Linked DNA regions of Homo sapiens. The protein of the gene in region 1 interacts with the protein of each later gene in a biochemical or structural test. Each region holds a gene or a part of one and is shown in the gene's direction. Other genes may lie near its edges.

Region 1 (3,080 bases):
CAGTCACCATCACCTGCCAACCCGGAGCCTCCTCACTTGCTGTGGTGTCTGTAGCGGGGCAGAGCGGGTCCTCAGCAGAGCGAGGGCCTTTCTTCCCTCCCCACCTTCACACACTTCTTCCGCTTTCCACCTTTCTCCAGTCTCCTTTGTCCTCTTTCTAGTTTCTGAATGCGGCAGTTTTCATATCTTTTTGTGAACACAGTCATGGTACCTGGTCCTAGGGCTCCATCAGGTTGCCAGGTGCGAGCAGTTTTCAGTAACTTGGGCTTGCGCGTTGGGGAAGTCCCACTGGTGCACTGCGGATAGCTCAGGCCTTCCCAGAGGCACTTCACGGCAGCTGTCGGCGCTTTGGGAGGGACCGGCCTCCCTCAGCCTTTCACTGTCTGGCTTCATAGTTTGAGTACAGGAGTTGGACAGGCTGTGGCAAGGGCTGATGTGACTCCCAGGTCAGAGGAAGTCGGAAGGAAGGGGGCTGGTGTCTACTGTCCGTGAGCTTACAGGCCAGGGGTTCTTGGGGCATGGGTCAGGTTATCTTTGAGCCTTCAGGGCTGTTGCCAGGAGTGAAGGTCCTTGGGAGCAACACATAGGCAGTCCATGCCCCCGTCCTGTCCATGATCCCATGTTGTCCATGATCCCATCCCGTCCATGATCCCATCTTGTCCGTGCTCCCGCCCTGTCCGGGTCTCCCACCTGTCCGTGCTCGCATCCTGTCTGGGTCTCCTATCCTGCCTGGGTCTCCTGGCACAGACCCAGACTTAGCGGTGGAGGGAAGCAGCCAGGATGCCTGGTGGTACTGGGTCCCATGCTGACACCGGCCTGTCCCCTTTCCTTGCTTGCAGGACTACGACCTCTGCATCAACTGCTATAACACGAAGAGCCATGCCCATAAGATGGTGAAGTGGGGGCTGGGCCTGGATGACGAGGGCAGCAGCCAGGGCGAGCCACAGTCAAAGAGCCCCCAGGAGTCACGCCGGCTGAGCATCCAGCGCTGCATCCAGTCGCTGGTGCACGCGTGCCAGTGCCGCAACGCCAACTGCTCGCTGCCATCCTGCCAGAAGATGAAGCGGGTGGTGCAGCACACCAAGGGCTGCAAACGCAAGACCAACGGGGGCTGCCCGGTGTGCAAGCAGCTCATCGCCCTCTGCTGCTACCACGCCAAGCACTGCCAAGAAAACAAATGCCCCGTGCCCTTCTGCCTCAACATCAAACACAAGCTCCGCCAGCAGCAGATCCAGCACCGCCTGCAGCAGGCCCAGCTCATGCGCCGGCGGATGGCCACCATGAACACCCGCAACGTGCCTCAGCAGAGTCTGCCTTCTCCTACCTCAGCACCGCCCGGGACCCCCACACAGCAGCCCAGCACACCCCAGACGCCGCAGCCCCCTGCCCAGCCCCAACCCTCACCCGTGAGCATGTCACCAGCTGGCTTCCCCAGCGTGGCCCGGACTCAGCCCCCCACCACGGTGTCCACAGGGAAGCCTACCAGCCAGGTGCCGGCCCCCCCACCCCCGGCCCAGCCCCCTCCTGCAGCGGTGGAAGCGGCTCGGCAGATCGAGCGTGAGGCCCAGCAGCAGCAGCACCTGTACCGGGTGAACATCAACAACAGCATGCCCCCAGGACGCACGGGCATGGGGACCCCGGGGAGCCAGATGGCCCCCGTGAGCCTGAATGTGCCCCGACCCAACCAGGTGAGCGGGCCCGTCATGCCCAGCATGCCTCCCGGGCAGTGGCAGCAGGCGCCCCTTCCCCAGCAGCAGCCCATGCCAGGCTTGCCCAGGCCTGTGATATCCATGCAGGCCCAGGCGGCCGTGGCTGGGCCCCGGATGCCCAGCGTGCAGCCACCCAGGAGCATCTCACCCAGCGCTCTGCAAGACCTGCTGCGGACCCTGAAGTCGCCCAGCTCCCCTCAGCAGCAACAGCAGGTGCTGAACATTCTCAAATCAAACCCGCAGCTAATGGCAGCTTTCATCAAACAGCGCACAGCCAAGTACGTGGCCAATCAGCCCGGCATGCAGCCCCAGCCTGGCCTCCAGTCCCAGCCCGGCATGCAACCCCAGCCTGGCATGCACCAGCAGCCCAGCCTGCAGAACCTGAATGCCATGCAGGCTGGCGTGCCGCGGCCCGGTGTGCCTCCACAGCAGCAGGCGATGGGAGGCCTGAACCCCCAGGGCCAGGCCTTGAACATCATGAACCCAGGACACAACCCCAACATGGCGAGTATGAATCCACAGTACCGAGAAATGTTACGGAGGCAGCTGCTGCAGCAGCAGCAGCAACAGCAGCAGCAACAACAGCAGCAACAGCAGCAGCAGCAAGGGAGTGCCGGCATGGCTGGGGGCATGGCGGGGCACGGCCAGTTCCAGCAGCCTCAAGGACCCGGAGGCTACCCACCGGCCATGCAGCAGCAGCAGCGCATGCAGCAGCATCTCCCCCTCCAGGGCAGCTCCATGGGCCAGATGGCGGCTCAGATGGGACAGCTTGGCCAGATGGGGCAGCCGGGGCTGGGGGCAGACAGCACCCCCAACATCCAGCAAGCCCTGCAGCAGCGGATTCTGCAGCAACAGCAGATGAAGCAGCAGATTGGGTCCCCAGGCCAGCCGAACCCCATGAGCCCCCAGCAACACATGCTCTCAGGACAGCCACAGGCCTCGCATCTCCCTGGCCAGCAGATCGCCACGTCCCTTAGTAACCAGGTGCGGTCTCCAGCCCCTGTCCAGTCTCCACGGCCCCAGTCCCAGCCTCCACATTCCAGCCCGTCACCACGGATACAGCCCCAGCCTTCGCCACACCACGTCTCACCCCAGACTGGTTCCCCCCACCCCGGACTCGCAGTCACCATGGCCAGCTCCATAGATCAGGGACACTTGGGGAACCCCGAACAGAGTGCAATGCTCCCCCAGCTGAACACCCCCAGCAGGAGTGCGCTGTCCAGCGAACTGTCCCTGGTCGGGGACACCACGGGGGACACGCTAGAGAAGTTTGTGGAGGGCTTGTAGCATTGTGAGAGCATCACCTTTTCCCTTTCATGTTCTTGGACCTTTTGTACTGAAAATCCAGGCATCTAGGTTCTTTTTATTCCT
Region 2 (2,781 bases), on another chromosome or scaffold:
AGGCATGAGCCACCATGCCTGGCCAATACTTCCGATTTCTATATGTATATAAACTTACATATGACTTCACAGAAATGTTTTAAGAGGACATGCACAGAACTGAGTATTTGCTCAAGCATTGTTTGTAATTTGAACTTAAATAAAAGAAGTCATGTGTCAGAAGTTAACCAGAGGACCCATAATTTCACTCTTTGGTATTTATTCAAGAGAAATGAAACCTTTCTACAAAAAGACTGGCACAAAAACATGCCTATGCAGCTAACCCTAGAAACATCGCAAGAGACTGGATACACAAATGGTGGTTATATTCATACAGTGAACTATGTCCAGCAGTGTGAAGGAACAAACCCCCATGCAGCAACATGGATGAACCTCAGATGGGCTGAGTGAAGGGACACCAGAGTACATAGTGTATGACACTCTTACATGAGGTTCTAGAATAGGAAAAAAACTAATCTCTGGTGATAAAAATCAAAACGATAGTTGCTTGGAAGGGGGCTGACCAGGAAGGGGCATGAGGGAACTTTCTGGGACAGTGGGAATGTTCTGTTGTCTTGACAGAGGTGTGGGTTATACAGGTATACACAATTGCCAAAACTGACTGAATTCTACACTTAAGATCTATGTATTCTCTGTGTGTAGATGATACTTTAAAGAGAAAAAAAGGTGACCACGGAAAATTACTGAAGAACATTTACCATTTAAAGAATGTGAAGTTTTTTCTAACATTGTTTTTTTAATGCTCATATTTAGAGAAGCTGCTCGAGAATGTCGCAGAAAGAAGAAAGAATATGTGAAATGCCTGGAAAACCGAGTTGCAGTCCTGGAAAATCAAAATAAAACTCTAATAGAAGAGTTAAAAACTTTGAAGGATCTTTATTCCAATAAAAGTGTTTGATTCCTAAGAAAGAAAATATTTTTGTGGACATGCATAAAAATTAAATGGATTTCCTAGTGGAGTTTTATAAATTAAAAGGTCAAAACTGAAGCTTTTTATTTAGGCTTTTCCAAATCAAGGATAAATATCTTACGCACGATATCTAGTGACAGAGGAGAAAGTGGAAAATGACCTCAAGGAAGCTACGGGCACAACTGGAAGCTTTGTAGAAATTAAACATATTCAAGGAGCAAGAAATGAACTTTCAGCAGTCTAAATTTTCTAAATAACCAATAGTTGCCAATCTAAAATGGCAGAGAAGATGAAATTTGATAAACTGAATTTTTTTTAAAAATCCATTTACCCTACAGGTTTGCATTTGTTTGCTGAAATTTACCTTTTTTTAGTTATATATATGTGTGTGTGTGTGTGTAATTTCTGCCAATAAATTCTAAATTACAAAGGTAAGAGAAAACCTAGTACATTACTAAATATATAAAGTATATGTTCTGATTATGTATACTTGTTCTAGTGTCAAGTCTTTTTAAGTGGGTTTTTAAAAGTTTGTTATTGGACTTGAATGGATTTTTGAGACTAGGTTAATTATTTTTGAGGTCTTATCCTAAAAGGCATCTAAGGTACATGAATGGAGTATGGTGATTTTATAACATTTTTTATCAGAATGGAAAAAGAACTGTTTAAAAGTTTGATACTTTTAAATAGTTGGTTTTTTTGCTTACTCTGGTAATGATTTTCTACAAATACATAATAAATTGTTTTTTTGAGTCTATATTCTGTATGCAGTTGAATATCCATTACTTATTCTGCTGTGCTTTAATAGAATGGAATGTTTACAGGCCCTTAAAATATTATTTTTAAAAAACCTTCTGAAGATACATACCAAAGTTTTTCCAAGAAGATTTTATAATCAATTTAATAATGTAAGGTTTATCAGATTCTATAATAGTATAGTTATTAAGGCAATTTTATGTTAGAGACTATTTTGTAATGTAGTGAGTGGTACCTTTATAAGAAAAGTGACTGCCAATATATTTTTATAGCTGATCTTTATAAATTCTAATGTTGAGTTTTTAATGATTATTTTAAATGTTTATATAGTTTAGTAAAATTTGCATCTCAAAGTATCATTTTTATATTATGGGACGTTTTCAGATTGGCTAATATTTGCATTGTAAATTTTGTATGCAGTTTATCTAAAATTCAAAAATACTGTCAGTACACCAGCGTTTAACATCTATATTCCAATTTGTATACAGTTTAAAATTGTACTGCAAAACTATTGTGTGCTCTTACACAGTATGCATCATATTGTTGTCTGTGAAATTAAAGGACATTTGATAGTCTACTGAATGTAAAATATAATGCTTGGTATATGAATGATAAGCTTGCTCCTGGCCATGCTGTTAATTATCCTAATGCTACGTAGAAATCTTCACTTAACTGATACATTTGTGTTTGACCCTCCTGATGAAATTTCTCATTAGAAGGGTCTTTTAAAATGGGACTCTGTTGACTTGGCAGCACTTTATGAAAAGAAAAAAAAGTTTGATCGCCAGGGGGATTACTTATATCACTTACTACCTTGTGTAAAGCCAGAATCTCAAACTGGTGGCCCGTTAGGCCTAAGAATATGAGGAGGTATGAGGTCACTGGGTTATGTCAAAAGACTTTTTCAACAGATGATAATATATTATTGGGTAGACACCGTGCTTGTTTACAACAGAGGTAGCCTAGCTCTTAGTGCCTTAACAGCTGGACATCTGCAAATATTTGTAAACTCTGCTGCCTTCAGACTTCTGGTGTAGGGCCTTGCTAACTAGACCCAGTTACTTACTCTAGCTGTATGAAACAGGTCAGGGCAAACCATTAATGGTTCCATAAAT
Region 3 (3,500 bases), on another chromosome or scaffold:
TTCAAGCTTATCACATCAGGAATCCAACTAAATGAGTTAAAAAATAAATATTGGTTTAATAATGTAAACATGTGATTGCTGTATTATTATAATGGAATAAAATTAACACGATTTAATGAACTGAGCGACCATTAATTTTTACTTGTTAATTTATTAGGAGATTTTAATGCCATTTGATGCACAGTACAGCCATTATTCTGCGTGAGCTCCTTAATGAAATAAATAAGACCAAGCAGGGCTTGCTTCAAATTGGAATCAGCTTTCATTCCTGTTAACCTTATTCTCCCACCTTTATTCACCTCTCCTTCAGCTTCCTGTAATTGCAATTAAGTTCTCTAAGATTGGAATGCAGTTTTCTTAATCAGCAAGTCTCATCAATAGTCCTAATTGACTTTTGCCCTTTTCTCCTTTGCCATATTGACTGATTAAAACAAAAGCAAAACTTAAAGACTCCATTCCCTCCCCCAAATCCCCATCTCATAGTGTTGGTTGGCTGGCAAGAGAACTGCCCAAGAAGGCTGCTCATGATGGCAGCCTGCTGAATGTGCAGGGGGTGGAAGTTCACCAGCCATGTGCAGACGTGAATGGCTGGTGCAGTGTTGGATGGGACTAACTCCTCCCTAAGGAGGGGTATGACCTTCTGTTGGCCTCTGACAAGTCCCTGAGCCATGGAGCCTTCAGTCTTCCCATCTTCAAGCACAATGGTTCCTGGAAACAGTGGGAAGTTGCCATCCTAAGCCCACCCTACAGAAGTTTGGTTTCTAATTTTACTGTGTTCTAAGCTTTAGAACCGAGACAATTCCAAGAGAACTTGTCCAGTTCATTTTTATGCCTTCCTTTAATGCCGTACCAGGTGCTAATTTCTGTGCCAGATAATGCGGACAAAATAGTGAATAAGGCAGATACTGTCCCTGGTGCCTTCTGTAGCTTCTAGTCCACTGGCTGTGAAACACAGGTTCTTTGGAGTTGTAAGAATGCTGTATGTGTTCACTCTTTAGCTAATTTGTAAATACTGTTTTTTTGGTGCCAAACCACATCCCCCAAGCTCTGCAGTTTATTGACTTGACAAGGATCTCTCTCTCTCTTTCTCTTTCTCTCTGTATAACATAATCCTTTGTTTCGACTTAACAGTTTGAGAAATAAACAAATCTATAGCATACTATCCACTGTTGGTTATCTAAGACCCTTCCTATAAACAGCAGCCTGCCACAGTGGCAACTGCTGTAGAATGTTTTGGCAGAGACTCAGTTTAAAATGAAAACACAGTAGAAGCCTATTAATTAAGAAGTTTGGCTAATTCTGGACTAGGCAAAAGTTTGTTTAGCAGGCCTTTTTGCCCCATAAATGCTGTCAAAGAAAAATTAATAAACAAGAGTTTGGGGATTATTTTGGAGGTAGGAGTCAGCAGACCTTGGTAGGTTCTAGACGTGGCTCTGTTTCTGATTAGCTGTGTGACCTGGGACAAGTCACCTTCTTTGGGCCTCGAATGTTCTCAACTGGAAAATAGGCTAGATAAACTCTATTGGAGGGCCTTTCTAACTTGGAATTGGTATTCATACAAGCATTTTATTTTATTTTATTTTATTTTTTGAGATGGAGTTTCGCTCTTGTTGCCCAGGCTAAAGTGCAATGGCGCGGTCTTGCCTCACTGCAACCTCCGCTTCCCAGGTTCAAGTGATTGTCCTGCCTCAGCCTTCTGAGTAGCTGGGATTACAGGCATGTGCCACCACACCCGGCTAATTTTGTATTTTTATCAGAGACCAGTTTCGCCATGTTGGCCAGGCTGGTCTCCAACTCCTGGCCTCAAGTGATCTGCCCGCCTCGGCCTCCCAAAGTGCTGGGATTCCAGGCCTGAGCCACCGCGCCCGGCCACATACAAACATTTTAAAAGCTCCCAGTTGCACGCATCTAGTTGATCAGTGAATGACAGATCTTTCTTAATTATTGATGTTCCAAGACTCTATCAGCCTGGTGTCAATTAATTTACATAAGTAAAAATAATAAAATTGTAATTCAGCCTTTAATTTTGGTGATTTCCCTCCCTCTTCCTTGCCTCTTCCTTACTCTGTGAGTCTAAATCAGTGAAATTTAACTACAAAGGAATATGAAAATAATGCTAGGATGAAGATGTGGAGGCTGTGCCTCTTGAGATGCAGTGAACAGTTTTTCTTCTTTTGTTGCTATTTTTGACTATTCTAAGAACAGGAAGTTTACTTAAACTAATGACCACAGATGCCTAAAAATGGTTAAATGTAAGAGGTAGGCATTATAGAGGATACCTGTGGAAAATGTTTGCTCATATGTCAAAGTTTACCCAGGAAGCTTCCTTTATTTATTTCCAAGCATCTATATAAAGAAAGGCTGCACTTGATTGCGTAAGCATGAGCCTTTTGTTAGGCAGCGTGGATGTTGCAAGTTTAAACCCCAACTAGGAAATGAAAAGTGAGTTTCCTCCTAAATAGTTCTTTTTCAGTATCACATGGCTCTCCCAGCTTACATCTGGCAAGTTTTTCTCTTGAGTGCTTTGCCGGTAGTTTAGGACTCCAGTATTGTATTGTATTGTTTGTTTGTTTCTTTATCTCTGTCTCTCTCTTTTTTTGTTTTTTGAGACGGAGTCTTGCTGTGTCGCCCAGGCTGGAGTGCAGTGGCGTGATCTCAGCTCACTGCAACCTCCGCCTCCCAGGTTCAAGCAGTTCTCCTGCCTCAGCCTCCCATGTAGCTGGGACTACAGGCGCCCGCCACCATGCCCAGCTAATTTTTGTATTTTTAGTAGAGATGGGGTAGGACTCCAGTATTAAGAAACACTGTGTATGGCTTTGCCTTTGAAACCTACAGAGTTATGAATCTGGTCCCTTTTGCTGCTAAGTGTTGCATCACAAACTGCCAAGCCAAGTTGTAACTCTGAGGTGTCACCATTTTTTTTTTCTTTTCAACTGGACATTTGAAAATAGTAATGCTTTTTGGGTGTGTGTTTTTTAAAGGTCTGTTTTTACGCTGTCACTGCTCAAAAATGCCAAAAGGCATTTTTTCCTTAAAAAATCACCTCTGGGCTAAGCCCAAATGTGGAGTAATGAATCCAGAAAGGACTTTTTGAGTAGTTACAAGTGGCTGAAAGCAGGCACTGGTGATGGAAATTGGGTTTTTCCTTTTGCTTCAAATCTTCCTGGTTGTAAACTTTTTCTTACCCTTATTGAAGTCAGACTCAAGGTGGGTCTAATTTCTCCCAGCCCATGGGAAGGCAGAGTGAATTACTGCTTGTTGTGCCAACCCTTTACATTTTGTGTGTGGCTGTTTGTCTCTACCCAGACAGGTTCTTCACATATTACCTGGGGAGCAGGAGAGGGGGAGGACAGGAAGAGCACAGTTGGGCAGAAAGAGCAAAGCCTCTCAAGTCTGATGGGTTTGGGTTTGAGTCTGACAGTTATTAGCTATGTGGTGACCTTGGGTACTTTGCTTCAACTTATTGAGCCCCAGTTTCTGCATCTGTAAAATGAGGATGA
Region 4 (3,500 bases), on another chromosome or scaffold:
AATTCACAAATTTCTGAAAAGCAAAACTTGAATTTGCTACGTGCTGAGTACATACTACATTGCATCCACATAAATGAAGTTATGTGTAGGCATTGTATTAGGTCTTACATGTAATCTAGAGATGATTTAAAGTATACGGAAGGTATGTGTAGGTTACATGCATATACTGTGCCATTTCATATAAGGGTCTTTAACATTCTCAGATTTTGGTATTGAGGGGGATCCTGGAACCAATCCCCCATGGATATCGAGGGACAACCATATATGCATAGAATATCCTCTGTGGAGGATAGTCAAAATCATAGAGACAGAAAGTAGAATGGTGGTTGCTAGGGGTTGAGGGAGGGGGAAATGAGTTATTGTTTAATGGATATAAAGTTTCAGTTATGCAAGATGCAAGTAGTTATGGAGACGGATGGTAGTGTTGGTTGTACAACATTATGAATGTATTTAATACCACTAAACTACACTTAAATGGTTAAGATGGTAAATTTTATGTTTTGTATTTTCATGCAAAAAAATTGAAAAATATCTCTGGAAAACAAATAAGAAACTCACAAGAGTGGCTGACTGGAAGTGGCGGTGGCTAGGAAACAGGAGGGGGTAGTAATAGTTTTTCCTAAAAGCTTTTTTTTTTTTTTTTTTTTTTTTGAGACAGGGTCTTGCTCAGTCACCTAGGCTGAAGTACAGTGGCATGATCATGGCTCACTACACCCTCAAACTCCTTGGCCCCAGCAATCCTCTTCCCACCTCAGCCTTCTTAGTAGCTGGGACTACAGGTGCGTGCCACCATGCCCAGCTAATTAATAAATTTTTTGTGTGTGTGAAGAGGAGGTCTCACTGTGTCACCCAGAATGGTGTTGAACTCCTGGCCTCAAGTGATTCTGTTGCCTCAGCCTCCCAAAGTGCTAGGATTATAAGTGTGCTGCCACTGCATCCAGGCCATATTTTCCCTATAAGCTTTTTTATTTTATTTTATTTTATTTTTTTAAAGATGGAGTTTCACTCTTGTTGCCCAGGCTGGAGTGCGATGGCACGATCTCTGCTCACTGCAACCTCTGCCTCCCAGGTTCAAGCGATTCTTCTGCCTCAGCCTCCCGAGTAGCTGGGATTACAGGCACCTGCCACCATGCCTGGCTAATTTTTTGTATTTTTAGTAGAGATGGGGTTTCACTATGTTGGCCAGGCTGGTCTCAAATGCCTGACCTGGTGATCCCCCCACCTCAGCCTCCCAAAGTGCTGGGATTACAGGCGTGAGCCACTGTGCCTGGCCAAAAAAATTAATTTTTTAATTGGCAATAAAATATATGTATTTATTGTGTACAATATGGTGCCTTGACATATATATATATAACAAGTCCTCACTTAACATCAATAGGATCTTGGAAACTGTGACTCTAAGCAAAACAGCATAATAACAAAACTAATTTTGCCACAGGTTAATTGATATAAAAAAGAGTTAAGTTCCTATGGCATATTTCTGGTCACAAGAACATCACCAAACTTCTAAATGAAGACCCCAAACACTTCTAATACTAAACATTGAAATAAATGTGAGCTATACGTAGATGTAAAAAAGAGTAGCTTGGGCATGGTGGCTCATACCTGTAATCCTAGCACTTTGGGAGGCCAAGGTGGAGGACACTTGAAACTGGGAGTTCAAGATCAGCCTGGGCTTCAAAGCGAGACCCTGTCTCTACAAAAAATTTTAAAAATTGACCAAGTATAGTAGCGTATACCTGTAATCCCAGCTACTTGGGAGGCTGAGGTGGAAGGATCACTTGAGCCCAGGAGTTCAAAGCTGCAGTGAGCTATGATCATGCCCCTGCACTCTACCCCAGGTGATAGAACAAACCCCTGTCTCTGGAAGAAAAAAAAAAGAAGGGCTGGGCGCGGTGGCTCACGCCTGTAGTCCCAGCACTTTGGGAGGCTGAGGTGGGCGGATCACGAGGTCAAGGGATCTAGCCATCCTGGTCAACATAGTGAAACTCTATCTCTACTAAAAAATACAAAAGTTAGCTGGGTGTGGTGGTACATGCGCCTGTAGTCCCAGCTACTCGGGAGGCTGAGGCAGGAGAATCGATTGAACCCGGGAGGTGGAGGTTGCAGTGAGCTCAGATCATGCCACCACACTCCAGCCTGGCGACAGAGCGAGACTCCGTCTCAAAAAAAAAAAAAAAAGAAAGAGTAATAAAAACAGGATATTTGCCTAATTTTTGGCAAATCAATGGGTGACCACAGTCCCACTGGTGGTGGGCTAAATCAAGGAATAAATATTTCCAAAGTGAAAATTTTAAGGAGCACTGGCTACTACCATGTGGTTAAAAATCAACAAATATGACAGGTGGGTGCTTTCGTACCACATTGTTTATTGTTGTGCATACGTCACACATTTTTATTTTATAATAATTTTTATTTATCCACTCTTTTATTTTCCAACGTCTTTATTCCAGTTCAGTGTTCAGGTGGTCAGAGCCTATCCTAAGCAGCTAAGGTTACAAGGTAGAAACCAACCCTGGACAGGACGCCATTCCATCCCAGGGTGTACTCACACACACACACCCACACTCACTGAGACTGGGACTGTTTAGACACCCTGTTCACCTATCAGGCACTTACTTCGGGGTGTGGGAGGAAACTGGAGACCTGGAAGAAACCCATGAAGGAATAAGGAGAACATACGAAGTCTTCATGGACAGTGGCCTCAGCTGGAAGTAATTTATTTTTTCTCATTAATGTTGTAACAGCATGATATTGAATGAAACAGCATTTTTTGAGGACCTGCTGTACCTTGTGGAATAGCTAGATGAAACTAATTAACATATGTATTACTTATAAGTTTTTGTGGTGAGAACACATAAACCTTGCATCACTTTCTAATGTCCCAGAAGATGTTCATGTAGGTGAAAAATCTGTTTATAATTATCTGAGCCTCAAACCAAATTTGTTTAACATAAACATACAGTATTTTTTTTGTTGTTGTTGTTTTTCTGAGGTAAGGTCTCACTCTGACCCCCCAGGCTGGAGTGCAGTGGCATGGTCTTGGCTCACTGCAACCTCTGCCTCCTGGGTTCAAGTGATTCTTGTGTCTCAGCCACCTGAGTAGCTGGGATTACAGGCATGCAAGCCCAGCTAATTTTTTTTTTGTAGAAACGGGGTTTTGCCATGTTGGCCAGACTGGTCTTGAACTCCTGGACTCTACCGATCCGCCCGCCTCCGCTTCCCAGGTGCTGGGATTACAGGCGTGAGCTACCGCGCCTGGTCAACACAGAGTATTTTTTGCCTGAAGCATAGTTAATGTGTAAATCAAGGGACTGTGCTTTCTTTAGTTCAGAAAGATTATTGAGTTGGTCACTATTTTGGGAAATTATATTGCAGACAGCAATGCTGTTTGTGTTTGTTTTGAGACAGAGTCTCACTCTGTCACCCAGGCTGGAGTACAGTGGCATGATCTTGGCTCACTGCAACCTCTGCCTCCCAGGTTCAAGCAATTCTCGTGC
Region 5 (3,500 bases), on another chromosome or scaffold:
AGTAGCTTCAACAGAAACCACATGTGCAGCTCTCATCACTTTTTTTCTGCTGCTCAGCATACTAATTGCAGTGATGCAGTTATAACAGCAACATGTTGATCGCCACATATGTTGCCATACTGCACTATTTTATTTATTTGTTTTTATTACCATTACATATCCATCACACCAAAACAAGAAAAGTTAACTTTGAATGTCATGCTTTTAAGGCATGGTGGAGTATGGATTATTTTGTCACTGAATTAGATGGCAAAACATTGTGTTTATTACACAATGATACTGTAGCTGTGTTAAAAGAATACAGTAAGCGTGGACATTACCATACTGAGCACTCATCAGAATATTTCTAACTCAGGAAAACAATGGTCAGAAAATAATGTAAAATAGAATATCTTAACACAACAGAATTTTTTCACAAAAATAAAAGAATGAAACTGAGGCTGCAACTAAAGTTTCTAAGTGGCTTATTTCTTGGCCAAGCAAGGAAAGCCATTTACCAATGATAGGTTAATTCATATTTGATTGCAACAGCTGAAGAAATGTATGCAGAGAAAATAAATTTATTTAAGACTGTTAGCATCTCACCAAGAACAGTTGCTTGAAGAGTTGAGGACAGTGGAGCAACATCAGTAGTCAATTAAAAGTTAAGGCAAATTAGCTCAGGTATATTTTTCCTTGGCTCTTGATGACTAGATCAATGTTATTGCTGCTTTGCAGTTGTTTATTCAAGAAGTCAGTGTTGGGCGAGGTGCAGCGGCTTACGCCTGTAATCCCAGCACTTTCGGAGGCTGAGGCGGATGGATCATGAGTTCAGGAGTTCAAAACCAGCCTGGCCAAGATGGTGAAACTCCATCTCTACTAAAAATACAAAAATTAGCCGGGCGTGGTGGTGGGCATCTGTAATCCCAGCTTACTCGGGAGGCTGAGGCAGAGAATTGTTTGAACCTGGGAGGCGGAGTTTGCAGTGAGCCGAGATTGCACCACTGCACTCCAGCCTAAGTGACAGAGTGAGACTCTGTCTCAAAAAAAAAAAAAAAAAAAAAAGTCAGTGCTGAGCTTGACAGAAGAACTAGCTCCAGTGAGTAGTCTACATGGAACAGCTATAGGAGAAAATAGCTTCAAAGCAGTTGCAAAAGTGTTAATTCAGTATAACCTGAGGTGGAATCTGCTAAGATTTATTATAACTGATAAGGGTAAAAATATGTGGAGCAGAAGACTTAGTGGAACAGATTTGCCAAGATTGAAAACGTAAGGTGTTTAAAAAGCCTATTACATTATTCATCAGCAGTACTTTGTTAGAGAAGACTTTAATCTACCTTGTGTTATTTAACCAGTAATTGTGAACAATGAACTTCATTCACTCTTGTGCACGTAACTATCAATATCAGTTCTGTGACTTTTTTTTTGAGACAGAGTCTCACTCTGTTTCTCAGGCTGGAGTGCAGTGGTGCGATCATGACTCACTTCAGCCTCAACTCCTGGGCTCAAGCAGGACCCTGGCTAATTTTTTTTTTTTGGTACAGATAGGGTCTCACAGCGTTGCCCAGACTAGTCTTGAACCCTGGCCTCAAGTGATCTTTTTGCCTTGATCTCCCAAAGTGCTGGGATTATAGGTGTGAGCTATCATGCTCAGCCAGTTTTGTGACATTTTGTTAGAAATAGAAGCTGAATATTTCTAACAAAATACTGTTAGGGTGACTTGTCTTAATGACACACTAATCTGGTGACTTAGCAGTAGCAAAGTTTTGTTGTGATTTTTCTGAACTCGGGGCCAAGAGTAAGATTTTTCTGAATCAGTACTGCCTTCGGCTACTGCTGTTGAACACTGGATGGTTTTGAAAATTAGCTTTTGCTGCAAACTTGCTAATATGTCTTAATGAATTCATCATAGAGTTACAAGGCAAAATACTGCTTTTCTGTGAAACATAAAGTGCAGTAAAGTCAATTTCACAAGTTAACATTTGAATCATAAGTAATGTCAAATTGCTTTTATATACTTTATATACTTCCAGTGGTGTCAGAAGTTAAAATAGGATGTTCATTACCACATAGATTTGCAGCAGATATATTTTCCAGGCTCAAGCTATATTTTCAGCAGTGTTTTTCAGACTTGAATGCAAATGCAAAGGAAATTTTCATATTTCAAAATTTGTTTTCACTGTACAGTTAAGGGGGTTCCATCTAACCTTCAGTTGGTAGTGACTAATCTGCAGTGTAACAGTATGTTAAAAGGCCATTATCAGGAGAAGAATGTAATACAATTCTATGAATGCCTTCCAAGCAATAAATATGCTCAATTAAAATCATACACTTGTGGATTAATATCGGTATTTGGCATTACTTGTCTATGCGAAAAGAAAGTGAAATACATAAAATCTTGTTAACACAACATCATTGACACATGAACATTTGTCATTGATTTTGATAGAGAACATTAACTTTGAACTCCAATTAAGTGAAATGTGATCCCCAAAAGAGAATTTTATTTTCCTCATTAGTAGACATGTAAGTACCTACTTAATATCCTGAATTTTGCCTCTTGACCCACAAAACCTAAAATACTTACTATGTCACCCTTTACAGAAAATGTTTGCTTAACCCTTCAGTTAAATGAGAGCCTTCCAGTTCTTCCACAGTGTTAAGATCAAACTGATAATGTGTACGAGTGAGACAGACATACATGAGATTGAAGATAATTTCAGCTTCTTAGCTCTCCTAACCTCTGTAGCGTTTTTTTTTTTTTTTTTTTTTTTTTTTGGAGTGAGAGTCTCCCTCTGTCCCCCAGGCTGGAGTGCAGTGGCACGATCTCCGCTCACTGCAGCCTCTGCCTCCGGGGTTCAAGCGATTCTTGTACTTCAGCCTACTGAGTACCTGGGATTACAGGCATGCACCACCACACCCACCTAATTTTTGTATTTTTAGTAGAGACAGGGTTTCACCACGTTGTCCAGGCTAGTTTTAAACTCCTGGCCTCAAGTGTTCCACCTGCCTCGACCTCCCAGCGTTCTGAGTTTACAGGCGTGAGCTATGGCACCTGGCCCATTTTTAAATAATGTAAAAGTATCCCATTATATTTTCAGCCTTCCCACCAGCCTCACTTCCACTTTAACCAGCAAGACAGTGGAGATTAATCAACTGAAAAAGGAAGATACAATTCACAAGACTTGTATGCTTTCTTGTGCTTGGAATTCCTAATTTTTGCTTGTACTTTTCTGCTATATCAAACCAAAGGAAGTTAATTTTGTTTTTGCTTTTATTGACTTACTAGTATCAAACACCATGTTAAATCTTGAGATCTGAAAAACATATCCAATAAAACTTACTTTCTATAATATATGACAGTATTTCTTTTTGATACTGATTCTTCTAACATAAAATATAACCAACACTTATTTTAAAATATACGGTAGGCTCATTCATAGATATTTGTGGTTAAATGTGTAATATATCTTGTAAGCGAAGAATCCATTCCATTACCAAACAAGGGCAGGTGTAGAAGA
Region 6 (2,591 bases), on another chromosome or scaffold:
GAAGGAACATCAGCACAGTTGAAATGCCATTACCTCAGGGTCCCAGGAACACAAGGAGTTCTTTGGCTAAAGAACCCTGGAACAAGAAGCATCATTCCCCAGGCAAAGGTGCTCCTTATCTTAAGAGCACCAGTCAGAGAAACAAGTAGTTTCTGACCGTCCCATGTACTCAGCCTCCTAGTTGCTCTAAGCACTTCTGGGCTCCTCCTGAATTTCTAAACTAAAGACCTCCAAGTGGGAGGTCAAATGCCCCCAAGGTTGAAGAGTTTATGCACAAATTCCTGAGAAATGGGGGAAAGGCACTGGGAAGGAGGTAGGGAAAAGAAGGCAGGTTTCGGGAAGGGGGGTGGCCAGGGGAGGGCCAAACCCCTTGTGTAACTAGCCTGCCCCGCGGCAATCAGTAAATATAAGCTGCACTGGGGGCTGAAGAAGCTGCCAATCTCAGCTCCCTGGGCCACTGGAAAGCATCGTTTCCCTAGTAGAATGTCACCAGTGAGGGAGGAAGGGAAAACATACAGCTTCCAATACCCAAGGCACTGAAGAGCTGGCAGAGCCTCAAGGGGAGCCTCACCATTGTCAACCCAGGGGCAACCCACCAATCAGGTACAAATATTGATTATGTACTGTGAGCTTGAGTAGGTATAGAATATGTGCTGTGAGCTTGGTGCTCTGGGAGGGCTTTGATGGGGGATGTGGGACTGGAGGACATTACACTTGGCACTTACACTCGATGAGACGAATTACATGAAACCATAAGCCACACAATATAAATTGGGTGAAATTGTGTGGCGCAGATTTTAAAAATACTATACTAGAAATTTGGCTGCCAAAGTCAAGCAGCCGCTTTATAAAAGAGGTGGAACTGAAGCTTGGTCTTGACGGAACTAGTAAAACTTAGAGAGGGGAGATCCCTCCTCGGAAAAGAGGGGAGGGGAAGATTGCACCTCACGCATTTGAGGCACAGCAGGAAGCCTGAACCTGAACTGAATGTAGTTGAGGATGTGTGTTGTGGATTGGAAGAAATAAGGCTGGGATTCAGGGAGGGGGGAAAAAGGAATCTTTAAATTCTATAGAGAGCTGGGTGGCCCAAATGCTCTGTGGGGAATGGAGCACCTGCTGTGCTGAGATTCCAGCCCTTCAGCCTATTCAGAGAACTGGCTCTGGGCAGGGCGGGTCCATCCTGGGCTGGTGCTGTACCACTGTCCCGTAAACTCTACCCAAACCTGCACTCAAGGAAAGGGGTGCAATGCTCTTTCCCACCTGAACCTAGTTCTTGCTGGGCAAGGAGCACGTCTCCCCAGTGCCCACCAGCCCCAGGTACCGCTCCCCCCACCCCCCGCAAAACACACACGAAGCCCTGGGAAGAGCAGAGTACCAGGAGCTTTTCCAGGGTGGGCATCCCCCGTGCTCTCTGCAGTGGATTATTACACGTTATCTCCCACCCGCTGTACAGAGAAGTCTGGAGCAGAGGCTGAGCAGCTTGTCTGGGAGCGGGAAATGTGTGTGGTCTCCCCTCACACCCCACCCCCACCCCTACTTCTACCAGTTTTCCCCCCTGGATTCAACTTTCTTTGAGTCTCCAGGAATACCCCTGCTGTGTTCCAGCACCCTTTTATCTTTTATCTTTTTCTCTTTTTTTGTAAATTATTTAAAGTTTTTCTTAAACTTTAATGACCTGGGAAATGAAGCCCCGAAATGAACCCTGCTGCGGTGGTGGCACCAAATCCTAAACCCTAGATCATCAGGGTCCAGCATCCTCTTAGACTTGACCGCTGGCCACTGACCTCCCCTACAGTACCTCACGCCCCTTTCCTGCCATCTCTGCCCCTCCAGAACTCGATCCGCCACAACCTGTCCCTGCACAGCAAGTTCATCAAGGTTCACAACGAGGCCACCGGCAAAAGCTCTTGGTGGATGCTGAACCCTGAGGGAGGCAAGAGCGGCAAAGCCCCCCGCCGCCGGGCCGCCTCCATGGATAGCAGCAGCAAGCTGCTCCGGGGCCGCAGTAAAGCCCCCAAGAAGAAACCATCTGTGCTGCCAGCTCCACCCGAAGGTGCCACTCCAACGAGCCCTGTCGGCCACTTTGCCAAGTGGTCAGGCAGCCCTTGCTCTCGAAACCGTGAAGAAGCCGATATGTGGACCACCTTCCGTCCACGAAGCAGTTCAAATGCCAGCAGTGTCAGCACCCGGCTGTCCCCCTTGAGGCCAGAGTCTGAGGTGCTGGCGGAGGAAATACCAGCTTCAGTCAGCAGTTATGCAGGGGGTGTCCCTCCCACCCTCAATGAAGGTCTAGAGCTGTTAGATGGGCTCAATCTCACCTCTTCCCATTCCCTGCTATCTCGGAGTGGTCTCTCTGGCTTCTCTTTGCAGCATCCTGGGGTTACCGGCCCCTTACACACCTACAGCAGCTCCCTTTTCAGCCCAGCAGAGGGGCCCCTGTCAGCAGGAGAAGGGTGCTTCTCCAGCTCCCAGGCTCTGGAGGCCCTGCTCACCTCTGATACGCCACCACCCCCTGCTGACGTCCTCATGACCCAGGTAGATCCCATTCTGTCCCAGGCTCCGACTCTTCTGTTGCTGGGGGGGCTTCCTTC
Region 7 (3,500 bases), on another chromosome or scaffold:
TAGGAATGATAATAATGCTAATCATTTAAAAGTTTTTGAGGCCAAGTGCAGTGGCTCATGCCTGTAATTGCAGCACTCTAGGAGGCTGAGGCAGGTGGATCACGAGGTCAGGAGTTCAAGACCAGCCTGGCCAACATGGTGAAACTCTGTCTCTACTAAAAATACAGAAAAGTTAGCCAGGCATGGTGGCGGGCACCTGTAATCCCAGCTACTCGGGAGGCTGAGGCAGAGAATTGCTTGAACCCAGGAGGCAGAGGTTGCAGTGAGCCAAGATCATGCCACTGCACTCTAGCCTGGGCTACAGGGCGAGACTCTGTCTCCAAAAAAAAAAAAAAAAAGTTTTTGAAGAGTGAAATGAAATAACATATACAAATGACTTATACAGAGCCTGCTGCATATTTTTAAATAATATTAATAGTGTTGTTGCTTTTATTATTGTTGTAGATATCATCATCATCATTAGAATCTTGTCCTGATTTCCTAGTTCAAAGAGTAATTTCTGCAAAATCTGACTTAGCCTGCTTCTGGTCATCCACATCTGATATAAGTAGTTTGATTAAACATTGAATGATTTCAGCCTTACTGATTTTTGTTATTGTTCAAGAAACAATAGCTTGTGTTTTGTAATAGTCTTTCTCCCCTTCATTCCCGCTTCATTTCAGTTGGTGGGTTACTACAATCAAAATTTACAAGTGGAGCTTTTCTTTCACCAAGTGTCTCTGTGCAAGAATGTCGTACTCCCAGAGCAGCATCTTTAATGAATATCCCATCCACATCCTCTTGGTCTGTCCCTCCACCCCTGACTTCTGTGTTCACAATGCCCAGCCCAGCCCCTGAGGTTCCGTTGAAAACAGTGGGTACACGTAGGCAACTAGGCCTAGTCCCTCGTGAAAAGTCTGTCACCTATGGCAAGGGAAAACTCTTGATGGACATGGCCCTATTCATGGGACGCTCATTTCGTGTTGGTTGGGGCCCCAACTGGACTCTTGCTAATAGTGGAGAACAGCTGAATGGCTCTCATGAACTAGAAAATCATCAGATTGCCGATTCCATGGAGTTTGGATTCCTGCCCAATCCAGTAGCTGTTAAACCGTGAGTCACATTTCTTGATGCTTTTTGAGAAAGGCAACATGATAGGTGAAAAAAACTAATCAGGAGGATAGGGCCCTGCTTTGTCATCTTTCTAGAGAGAGAGAGAGAGAGAGAGAGAGAGAGAGAGAGAGAGAGAGAGAGAGAGAGAGTGTGTGTGTGTGTGTGTGTGTGTGTGTGTGTGTCTCAGTTTTGCTCTGTTTCCCCGGTGTGTGTGTGTGTGTTTTTGAGTCTCAGTTTTGCTCTGTTTCCCAGGCTGGGGTGCGGTGGCACGATCTCAGCTTGCTGCAACCTCTGCCTCTCAGTCTGAGGCTCTTCTCCTGCCTCAGCCTCCTGATAAGCTGGGATTACATGCACACGCCACCACACCCAGCTAATGTTTCCTGAGCTCAAGTGATTGTCCTACCTTGGCCTCCCAAAGTGCTGGGATTACAGTCATGAGCCACCTTGCCCAGCCTATCCTTCATTTTTAAAGTTGACTTTGAAAAAATAAAAAACAACCTGTAATCCCAGCACTTTGGGAGGCCAAGATGGGCGGATCACGAGGTCAGGAGATTGAGACCATCCTGGCTAACACGGTGAAACTCTGTCTCTACTAAAAATACAAAAAAAATTAGCTGGGCGTTGTGGCAGGCGCCTGTAGACCCAGCTAGTCAGGAGGCTGAGGCAGGAGAATGGTGTGAACCCGGGAGGCGGAGCTTGCAGTGAGCTGAGATCGCGCCATTGCACTCTAGCCTGGGCAACTGAATGAGACTCAGTCTCAAAAAAAAAAAAGAGAGAAAAGAAAAAGAAAAAACAACAATGTCTCTTGAACCTCACAATTAAGAATACTGATCCTAAACTTAGTTATTCTAGGTTAAGCATTATCTTGTGAATTTTGAAGGTTATTAATATCAATCTTAAAAATTAGATCAAGGGGCCGGGTACGGTGGCTCACACCTGTCATCCCAGCACTTTGGGAGGATCACTTGAGGTCAGGAGTTCGAGACCAGCCTGGCCAACATGGTAAAACCCTGTCTCTACTAAAATTACAAAAATTAGCCCAGGGTGGTGGTGCATGTTTGTAATCCCAGCTACTCAGGAGACTGAGGCAGGAGAATCGCCCTTGAACCCAGGAGGCAGAGGTTGCAGTAAGCCAAGATCACGCTACTGCATTCCAACCTCAGCGACAGTGTGAAACTCCATCTCAAAAAAAAAAAAAAAAAAAAAATTGGAACAAGCCTAGCTTAGCTATATGCTCATTGTAATTTAGAATCAGTTCTTTAGTATCTAGAAGCTTAGCCTCATGACTTTTGATACCCAAGTATAATTTGAGAAACAGGTATCCCACAATAGCTTTTGGCCCTTGAGTTTTAGCCAGTTCTAAATCTGTTAGGATTCTCATGCTTGTTATAACCTGGCCTAAGAAGCCTTTGTGTTCTGAATGCACTGATCAGATGATTTTTTTTCCCCAGTATATAGCAGATAAGTTCAGTATAGTTTAAGAAACAAAATTTCTTTAAAACTACAGTGAAATGTTTGCATTCCGTTTGTAATCATAAAAAGAAACAGTGGTTTGGTTGAAGTAAAAATCCTAGCTTCTGTCTTAGGTTCATTTTCTATTCTATTCCTCATTTGCTCTTGTAGCCTAACTGAGTCCCCATTCAAAGTTCACTTAGAAAAACTCAGTTTGAGACAAAGAAAGCCAGATGAAGACATGAAATTATATCAGACACCTCTGGAGCTCAAATTAAAACACAGCACTGTCCATGTGGATGAACTGTGTCCTCTCATTGTCCCCAATCTGGGAGTTGCTGTCATTCATGACTATGCAGATTGGGTTAAAGAAGCATCAGGAGACTTACCAGAAGCACAAAGTGAGTACACACTATGTTTCTAATGTTTGATGTCCCAATAATAGTGGTGGTAGCGTATGTTCACGGGAGGATGAATTTCCTGGCACCAGTCTAGTAGGTAAATGCCTGTGCTTGTCATTTTCTGAGGTTGAGTTTAACTAAGCAGATTCCCAAGCAAGAAGAAATTGTCACTATGTTCTTGTCACTTTGTTCTTTTACCCATTAATGTACAAATTCTTCCACAAAGAACTGTAGCAAGTCAAATCCTTGGATTTATAAAATTGAATTTCTTACCTAATCCAGAGAACATAGGGAGAGAAATACATTCCTTCTTGCTTTACTTTTTTTTTTTTTTTTTTTTTGAGACGGAGTCTCACTCTGTCACTGTAGCTGGGAGTATAGGCGCGCGCCACCACACCCAGCTAATTTTTGTATTCTTAGTAGAGACAGGGTTTCACCATATTGGCCAGGATTGTCTCGATCTCTTGACCTCGTGATCTGCCTGCCTCGACTTTCCAAAGTGCTGGGATTACAGGCGTGAGCCATCGAGCCCGGCCCCTTCTTGCTTTTCTAAAT

The links.
Region 2: the proteins of CREBBP (region 1) and ATF1 form a complex in vitro, tested with the Homo sapiens proteins (2 studies listed by BioGRID).
Region 3: the proteins of CREBBP (region 1) and SMAD3 form a complex in vitro, tested with the Homo sapiens proteins (3 studies listed by BioGRID, with this or other methods).
Region 4: of the proteins of CREBBP (region 1) and ZNF106, one has a biochemical effect on the other in vitro, tested with the Homo sapiens proteins (2 studies listed by BioGRID, with this or other methods).
Region 5: the proteins of CREBBP (region 1) and GTF2B form a complex in vitro, tested with the Homo sapiens proteins (2 studies listed by BioGRID).
Region 6: the proteins of CREBBP (region 1) and FOXO4 form a complex in vitro, tested with the Homo sapiens proteins (2 studies listed by BioGRID).
Region 7: the proteins of CREBBP (region 1) and NUP98 form a complex in vitro, tested with the Homo sapiens proteins (2 studies listed by BioGRID).

What each region holds. Positions count from the first base shown.
Region 1 is NC_000016.10:3,727,634-3,730,713, reverse strand, and holds part of CREBBP (CREB-binding protein), read left to right. Parts: intron 1-839; coding exon 840-2,996; 3' UTR 2,997-3,080. UniProt on the Homo sapiens protein: Acetylates histones, giving a specific tag for transcriptional activation. Mediates acetylation of histone H3 at 'Lys-18' and 'Lys-27' (H3K18ac and H3K27ac, respectively).
Region 2 is NC_000012.12:50,818,882-50,821,662, forward strand, and holds the end of ATF1 (cyclic AMP-dependent transcription factor ATF-1), read left to right. Parts: intron 1-753; coding exon 754-898; 3' UTR 899-2,281; downstream 2,282-2,781.
Region 3 is NC_000015.10:67,072,102-67,075,601, forward strand, and holds part of SMAD3 (mothers against decapentaplegic homolog 3), read left to right. Parts: intron 1-3,500. UniProt on the Homo sapiens protein: Receptor-regulated SMAD (R-SMAD) that is an intracellular signal transducer and transcriptional modulator activated by TGF-beta (transforming growth factor) and activin type 1 receptor kinases.
Region 4 is NC_000015.10:42,484,642-42,488,141, reverse strand, and holds part of ZNF106 (zinc finger protein 106), read left to right. Parts: intron 1-3,500. UniProt on the Homo sapiens protein: RNA-binding protein. Specifically binds to 5'-GGGGCC-3' sequence repeats in RNA. Essential for maintenance of peripheral motor neuron and skeletal muscle function.
Region 5 is NC_000001.11:88,881,568-88,885,067, reverse strand, and holds part of GTF2B (transcription initiation factor IIB), read left to right. Parts: intron 1-3,500. UniProt on the Homo sapiens protein: General transcription factor that plays a role in transcription initiation by RNA polymerase II (Pol II). Involved in the pre-initiation complex (PIC) formation and Pol II recruitment at promoter DNA.
Region 6 is NC_000023.11:71,098,851-71,101,441, forward strand, and holds part of FOXO4 (forkhead box protein O4), read left to right. Parts: intron 1-1,833; coding exon 1,834-2,591. UniProt on the Homo sapiens protein: Transcription factor involved in the regulation of the insulin signaling pathway. Binds to insulin-response elements (IREs) and can activate transcription of IGFBP1.
Region 7 is NC_000011.10:3,700,055-3,703,554, reverse strand, and holds part of NUP98 (nuclear pore complex protein Nup98-Nup96 isoform 1 precursor), read left to right. Parts: intron 1-662; coding exon 663-1,092; intron 1,093-2,715; coding exon 2,716-2,945; intron 2,946-3,500. UniProt on the Homo sapiens protein: Plays a role in the nuclear pore complex (NPC) assembly and/or maintenance. NUP98 and NUP96 are involved in the bidirectional transport across the NPC. May anchor NUP153 and TPR to the NPC.